2 separate regions of the Homo sapiens genome follow, and region 2 is reported to be linked to region 1. The links are microRNA targets in miRTarBase. Many come from high-throughput screens and were not tested one by one. Region 1 holds a microRNA gene; the other region holds the end of a gene's coding sequence.

Evidence for each region. The annotated mature microRNA hsa-miR-130b-3p reads CAGUGCAAUGAUGAAAGGGCAU and lies in region 1 at 2,411-2,432, opposite strand. An mRNA with a match to its seed (bases 2 to 7 or 8) in the 3' UTR can be bound and repressed. Matches are read on the target gene's strand: a 7mer-m8 pairs with bases 2 to 8, a 7mer-A1 pairs with bases 2 to 7 and ends in A, and an 8mer does both.
Region 2: the mRNA of SNAI3 is a reported target of hsa-miR-130b-3p. The part of its 3' UTR that is shown has no 7-base or 8-base seed match.

The regions. Positions count from the first base shown.
Region 1 is chr22:21,652,202-21,655,785 of GRCh38, reverse strand. MIR130B (microRNA 130b) reads right to left here and starts at 2,482; the gene lies at 2,401-2,482. MIR301B (microRNA 301b) reads right to left here and starts at 2,805; the gene lies at 2,728-2,805. It also overlaps the pseudogene LOC107985532. RefSeq lists enhancers at 3,092-3,141, 2,678-3,349, 3,350-3,584.
Region 2 is chr16:88,675,967-88,678,966 of GRCh38, forward strand. It overlaps SNAI3 (snail family transcriptional repressor 3), which reads right to left. Exons shown (of 3, transcript NM_178310.4): 3 at 1,722-2,663. The coding sequence ends at 2,482. All of the region lies in intron 3 of SNAI3-AS1 (SNAI3 antisense RNA 1), which reads left to right. Among named protein-coding and RNA genes, the nearest start is that of SNAI3, 9.0 kb to the right of the region's middle. RefSeq lists enhancers at 1,567-2,324, 2,325-3,000.

The DNA.
Region 1 (3,584 bases):
GGCTGAGGCAGGAGAATTGCTTGAACCCAGGAGGCAGAGGTTGCGGTGAGGCGAGATTGCACCATTGCACTCCAGCCTGGGCAACAAGAGCGAAACTCCGTCTCAAAAAAAGGGTGGGGGGTTATTGGGCCCCTCCTCTTTGTCAGACACTGCCAAGAGATTTTTTTTTTTTTTTTTGAGACGGAGTTTCCCTCTTGTTGCCTAGGCTGGAGTGCAATGGCGCAATCTCAGCTCACCGCAACCTCTCCCTCCTGGATTCAAGTGATTCTCCTGCCTCAGCCTCCTGAGTAGCTGGGATTACAGGCATGCGCCACCATACCTGGCTAATTTTGTATATTTATTTTTTATATTTTCAAGAGGGAGTCTTGCCCTGTTGTCCAGGTTGGAGTGCAGTGGCGCGATCTTGGCTCACTGCAACCTCTGCCTTCCGGGTTCAAGCAGTTCTCTGCCTCAGCCTCCCTAGTAGCTGGGATTACAGGTGCCCACCACCACACCCGGCTAATTTTTGTGTGTGTGTGTGTGTGTTTTTAGTAGAGATGGGGTTTCACCATCTTGGCCAGGCTGGTCTTGAACTCCTGACCTTGGACCCACCTGTCTCAGCCTCCCAAAGTGATGGGATTACAGGCGTGAGCCACTGCGCCCAGCCTAATTTTGTATATTTAGTAGAGATGGGGTTTCTCCATGTTGGTCAGGCTGGTCTCAAACTCCCGAACTTAGGTGATCCACCTGCCTCGGCCTCCCAAAGTGCTGGGATTACAGGCATGAGCCACTGCGCCTGGCCAGAGATTTTTTAAATGACAGTTGTCTCTGCCTCAGGGGCTCCCAGTCTAATGGACACTTCTGCCACAGGGAGAACATTTTGATTTAGGCCGGGTGCGGTGGCTCATGCCTGTAATCCCAGCACTTTGGGAGGCCCAGAAGGGCAGATCATGAGGTCAGGAGTTCGAGACTAGCCTGGCCAACATAGTGAATCCCCGTTTCTACTAAAAATACAAAAATTACTGGGTGTGGTAGCACCTGTAGTCCCAGCTATTCGGGAGGCCGAGGCAGGAGAATCGCTTAAACCCGGGAGGCGGAGTTTGCAGTGAGCCAAGATCGTGCCACTGCACTCCAGCCTGGGCGACAGAGCAAGACTCCATCTAAAAAAAAAAAAATTTGATTTAACAAGCTGTTCTGGAGGAATATTCAATGCTGTGAAGCCCAGAGAAGGCTTCCATTGGGAGGGAGCCAGTGAGCAGAGCCCTGAGTTCAGTCTCCCCGCAGCAAGAGCAGGAGACAGCTGCATGGGGGTCTCCAGCCAGTGGGTACAGAATCTGTACAGGACTGAGGGGTGGCCACCTCCAGCCATGGCCCCTGGTGCCTAGAGGAAGGGAGGATGGATCTAAGTCAGATGACCCTAGGATCAAGGAACCCCAAGGGATCAGGACTAGGAAGCCAAGGAGCATGTGTCATTGCCCCTGTTCCTCCCACGGGTGCCAGGGCTTCTCTCCCCAGGGTAGGGGTAAAGCAGTTTCCCAATGCGCCCAGCTAGGGATGAGGGGAACTCCCAAAAGCCCATCTGGAAACCTAGTCCTCCTCTAAAGAAGATTTGAATGACTGTGACTGGGCACGTAGAAACCTTTTGCACCGTGTCAGGTCTTGATGGTAGAGGTGGTCATCCAAGCATGCCTGGGGTCAGGCTCCTTGGAAGTTCAGCTCCAACCCTGTATTCCAGCTGGGACGGTTGGAATGTTAGACACCTCAGTCCCTCCTGCAGGTTCAGGGCACACCTCTCTGTAAGAGAACAAACTGGCATGGTTGGTAGACATCATTTGCAGGCTTTGTATCCCAAGTCCACCCATCCATCTCACATAGTACCACTCCAGCTGAGTCCACTCAACTGATCAGTCAACTGGTCAGTCCATAGTACCACTCCAGCTGACGTCCTGGGGTGAAGGCTGCCTCCTGAAAGGCCTGCCTTACCCCCTTACCCAACTGCCACCCAGAAGAACATTCTCTCCAGAGCCTGGCCCTGTTCAAGCTTCCAGCAAGGACTGGGCCCAAGCCAGGCCTAGAATGATCTTCCATGCAAAAGACTGGGCGTGTATTTCCCCTAAGACCCTGACCAGGCCTGGAGTTCCAGTCTTACCCCAGGGACCCAATGTGGAAAGACCTTCAAACAAGAGCTTTTCAGAAGCTGGGGAGGTCTGCTCCTGCACCTGTCCAGCCATGACAGGATGGAGAGTTTAGGGATGATTCTCCAGCTCTGCACCCACCTGATCCTCTGATGGAGGGTCCAGTCCAGCTTCACATCTGTGCCTAATCAGTGGAAACACTTACCCTCTGGGCACCTCAACCTTCTCAACTGGAAAGTGGAGTGAGGCAGCAAGCTCCCTTTCCCCCTCCCAGGGTAGCAGGCTGGACCTGACCGATGCCCTTTCATCATTGCACTGCTTCCCAGCGGCCTATAGTAGTGCAACAGGGAAAGAGTGTCGGGCAGGCCTGCCAGTGCCTCCCCCAGGGTGGTCTGCAGGGATCTGAGACCTGGAATGCAGGCTGGCTGGGGCGGGGCCTCTGCCCGGGGGGAAAGGGTGCCCTCTGACCCCAGAGGCCCAGGCCTGTCTAGAATCTCAAGTTTCCATGGAGAAGGGAGCGAATTGGGTAGGGGGGAGGGGAGGGCCTGCAAGCCCAAGGGGCCCTGCCTGGGGAGTGGGAGGTGAGGGTTATAGGGAGGGAGATCCCCAAGGCTGGTCCCAGATGCTTTGACAATATCATTGCACTGCTTCTCAGAGCACAGTAGTGCAACCTCGTCAGAGCACCTGCGGCCAGCAGGGGGGACCCCACCACCCCCAATACACGCAGGGCGGGAAGCTCAACCATGGATGGGTGGGTGGGGCAGAGCCCCCGTCCAGTCCATCCGGGCAGGGAAGGAGACCGCAGCGGGGTGCGTCCCTGGGGTCTTCAGAACCCAGGACACCCAGGCCTTTCCCAGAACGCTCCGGATTGAGGTGGAGGAGAAACCCCAGACTAGGGGGTTGTTCCAATCCCGGAGCAGGAGCTGACGGGCCACGCAGGGGAGGGGGCGCACACACAAAGACGAACCCGCACTCAGCCGCAGTCCAAAGCCGGCTAGCGCCCGGAGCGGGGTGGGTACAGCCCGACGACCCTGCGCCCTGACTCGGCCCGCGGCTCCAGGAGAAAAAGGGCGGCCCCACCCCGGGACGACGCGCCCCTTCTAGCTGACGACTCCATCCCTGGCCCCTTGCCCTGCACTAGATACACTCTGGATTCTTTTCTAACATATTCTTCTGCCTGGAGGCCCAGAGTGGAGCAGAGGATGGGGGCTCCCCGCCCTTCTAGAGTTCCCTGCTCCAAAGAGGGCCCCCGGGATCCCGGCCGCGCCCCTCCGCCTGACCCGCCGAGTAGGGCCGCCCAGCCCAGCCCAGGATCCCCTCCTCAGACACAGCTGACTCACGCAGACATCCCTTCCGCCCAGGGCCCGGTCAGGACGCGGAGGGTTAGACGGAAGAGGATCCCGGCCATCGTCTGCCCCCGGGTCCCCGTCCAGACGACCCTGCACCTCGTGGCGGCCCCTCGCCTGCCGG
Region 2 (3,000 bases), not on the chromosome of region 1:
GTTGAAGTCCTAATTTTCGGGCCCTCCGCTTGTGACCATATTTGGAAGTAGAGGCTTTGCAGATGTCATGAGTTAAGATGGGGGCCTCCTGGAGCAGGGCAACATGACTGTATCCTCATAAGAAGAGGAGAGACAGAAACAGACACACACAGGGAGATGCCACGGGACTCCCAAAGCCACAAGAAAGCCTGGAACAGCCCCGCCCTCACAGCCTCTGAAGGAACCAGCCCTGCCTTCACCTGGATCTGGGACTTCCAGCCTCCAGGACTGGGGGAGAATGAAACTCTGTTGTTTCGGCCACTCAGGCTGGGGTGCTTTGTTATGGCAGCTGAGTGGGTGCCTCCCTCTCTGGGGACGGCCAATCCCTGTAGGGGAGGCAGTGGTCCCGGTCCAGGAAGGTGAGAGAGGCTTTCTCAGTGTCTTCACTTCGCCAGCTCACGTGGAGACTGGTAGCGGCTGGAGCCCAAGCTCTTCTGGGGAGCCGGTTTACTCAAGGTCACCCTTGATCCAGCGGAGCCCAAGGTCTAGGTCAAGCTTCCTCTGGGATGTCCCCAAGGCTCTTCAAACAGGTGTCGTCAAGCCATCTGCCCAAGGGCCCGTCAGCACCTGGCAGGTGTTAGCCAGGCTGATCTGCAGGCGGGGCTGCCCCGAGTGGGGCTCCCACTGCCCGGGTTGGGACTGGAGCAGCCAAGTGGCTGAGCAACAAGGTGCTTCATGTGTGGTCCCTGTGAGCCCCCCTGAATAGTCTCATGGACAGACGGATGGACGGGAGGCTCAGTGGGCTCTGGGAGCAAGGGGAGCGCTTGCCGCTCTCCACGTGGCTCCATTCCAGGACCAGGACAATGATGTCTTCCTGTCTGCAGCCAGAAGCAGGGCAGCTGACAGCGGCCCAGCCCTCCTGAGGGACAGGTGTCCGCTCCCAGAAACCTCCCTTCCACCATCCCCATCAGCGAAGGTGTCAGGGACTAGGAGGGGCCTCCTTGCTCCTTCCTGGACGCTGCCCCTGGGGTTGAGCTGGAGAGGCTGAGACATGCTGGGAAGAGGAGGACCAGCCCAGTGGGCGGCCGCCCAACAGCTCGGCGGTGAGAAGAGGCCACGTGTAAGAAGGAAACGCCACCACCCCACTGGATGGTGGGAGCAGGACTCCAGGGAGGGGGGTCTTGAGTGTAGGCAACCATGTCGATTTGGCACAGTGTCTCAACAGGGCAGGGCAAGGGTCTGGGATTCCAGTTCACGGATGCCCCAGGTACCATGGGTGGACAGAGGCCCAGACCCTCTGCAAGACAGCAGTGATCATGTCAGACCCTCGCAGCGCTTGAGGGCTGCAGCAGGAGCCCTGAGTCCTCTGTTCTGACCAGGCAGCAGGGAGGACTCGCTGCCCCCAGCTGCACAACGCCTGCCCCGGCCTTGGTCTTGGCCCTCTACCCGGCACCAGCTGGAGCCTCTTGGCCATTCCTCTGTGCCATGGGACACTCTCCCACTCCTGCGCTGGCTTCTGCCCACAGTGGCGCCCCTGCTCACCCACTGGCAGTGTCCCCACCTCTCAGAAGAGTTTTTCACAGTGGCAGGCCCTGACCCAGAGTCTCCTGCCTACTTGGTGGCTAAAGGCCCCAGGCGATCCCCAAATCCTGCTGTCTCAGGGAGTTTCTCAGAGTCCCACCTCCTCCACAGAACCAGGGGATTGGCCAAGACTCAAAGCTTCGAAGAACGGAACATGCAGGTGTGCAGAGACCATTTATTACCCCACGGCTGTTATTGCCTGGGAAGCTGAGTGCCCTGAGACCCCAGCCCCCTGAGGCTCTGACCGGGACAAATCCCACAGGCACTCCGCCTCATCCCAACACACCCAAATCACCAATCGTGGGCTCTCCCAGTCCTGCCCCATCTCCCGGAGAGTCTAGTGAGGTGGGGAGGGCACGTGTGTGTACATGTTTGAGTGTGTGTGCACATGCACATAGACGTGTGACATGGGGCAGCTCGTCCCAGACCCCAAACCAAAGGCTGGCGGGGGCTGGCTGAGAGGTAGTTGTGCCTACTGAGGAAGGGCCACAGGGCGGTGCTCACTATAAGTCAGAACTGTTCATTTCTGCTGCAATGGAACTAGGCAGCCTTGCCAGCCATCCGGCGGCAGTGCCGGCCCATGCTGGCGGCCACCTCCCCGAGGCTCTGACTCTTGGAAGGGTAGCCCCGGAGACCTGGCCGTGTCGAAATGGAACCATGGCTCTTGTTCTGATGAAAGCCTTCCCCGGGAGAGGAGTCTCCTCTGAGTGGGCTCCGCGCGGTGGGATGCCTGGGGGAGTGTCCTCCGGCCCAGTGGCCCCCGCTGGACTTCTTTGGTTCTGATTGGACGCAGATGTGGAGGACGCACCAAGTGTGAGGCCAGGCCCCGCCCTCCCAGACTCCTGGCTCCTCTGGGGGCAGGAGGGACGCCAGCTCTCCCGGTGAGGACCATCCCTCCTACCTGCGCCGACCACGTGCCTCTCAGGGGCCCGGGCAGCAGCCAGACTCCTCATGCCGCGCCAGGAGGGACATGCGGGAGAAGGTCTTGGTGCAGCGCCGGCACCGGTACTTCTTGGCGTCTGAGTGCGTTTGCAGATGGGCCCGAAGGTTGGAGCGGTCGGCAAAGGCCCTGCTGCAGTGCGAGCAGGCATAGGGCTTCTCCCCTGTGGGAGGAAGGCGGCGGCCAGTGACACCATGGAAGATGGAGTGAAGGCTAAAGCACCCACCCTGCCCATCAATGGATACTCCCATCCCTTCCCCACAAATGCTCACAGCCAGAGCACCCAAGGTTGAGCTGTGTGGGGACGGGGTGGCACGCCACATCACCTGAAGCCCCTCCCAGGAGCACAGGCAGCCACAGGTGCTAGATCTCCTAGTGTTGCTGCAGTAGCCCTCCCGGGGCCCTTGGCCACTGGGAGAGGACGGGAGAAGCACTGGGGGCCTCTGGCAGCTGTTTCTGGCCACTCACAGGCAAGTGGGGGGGTCTGGCCAGCTCCAGCA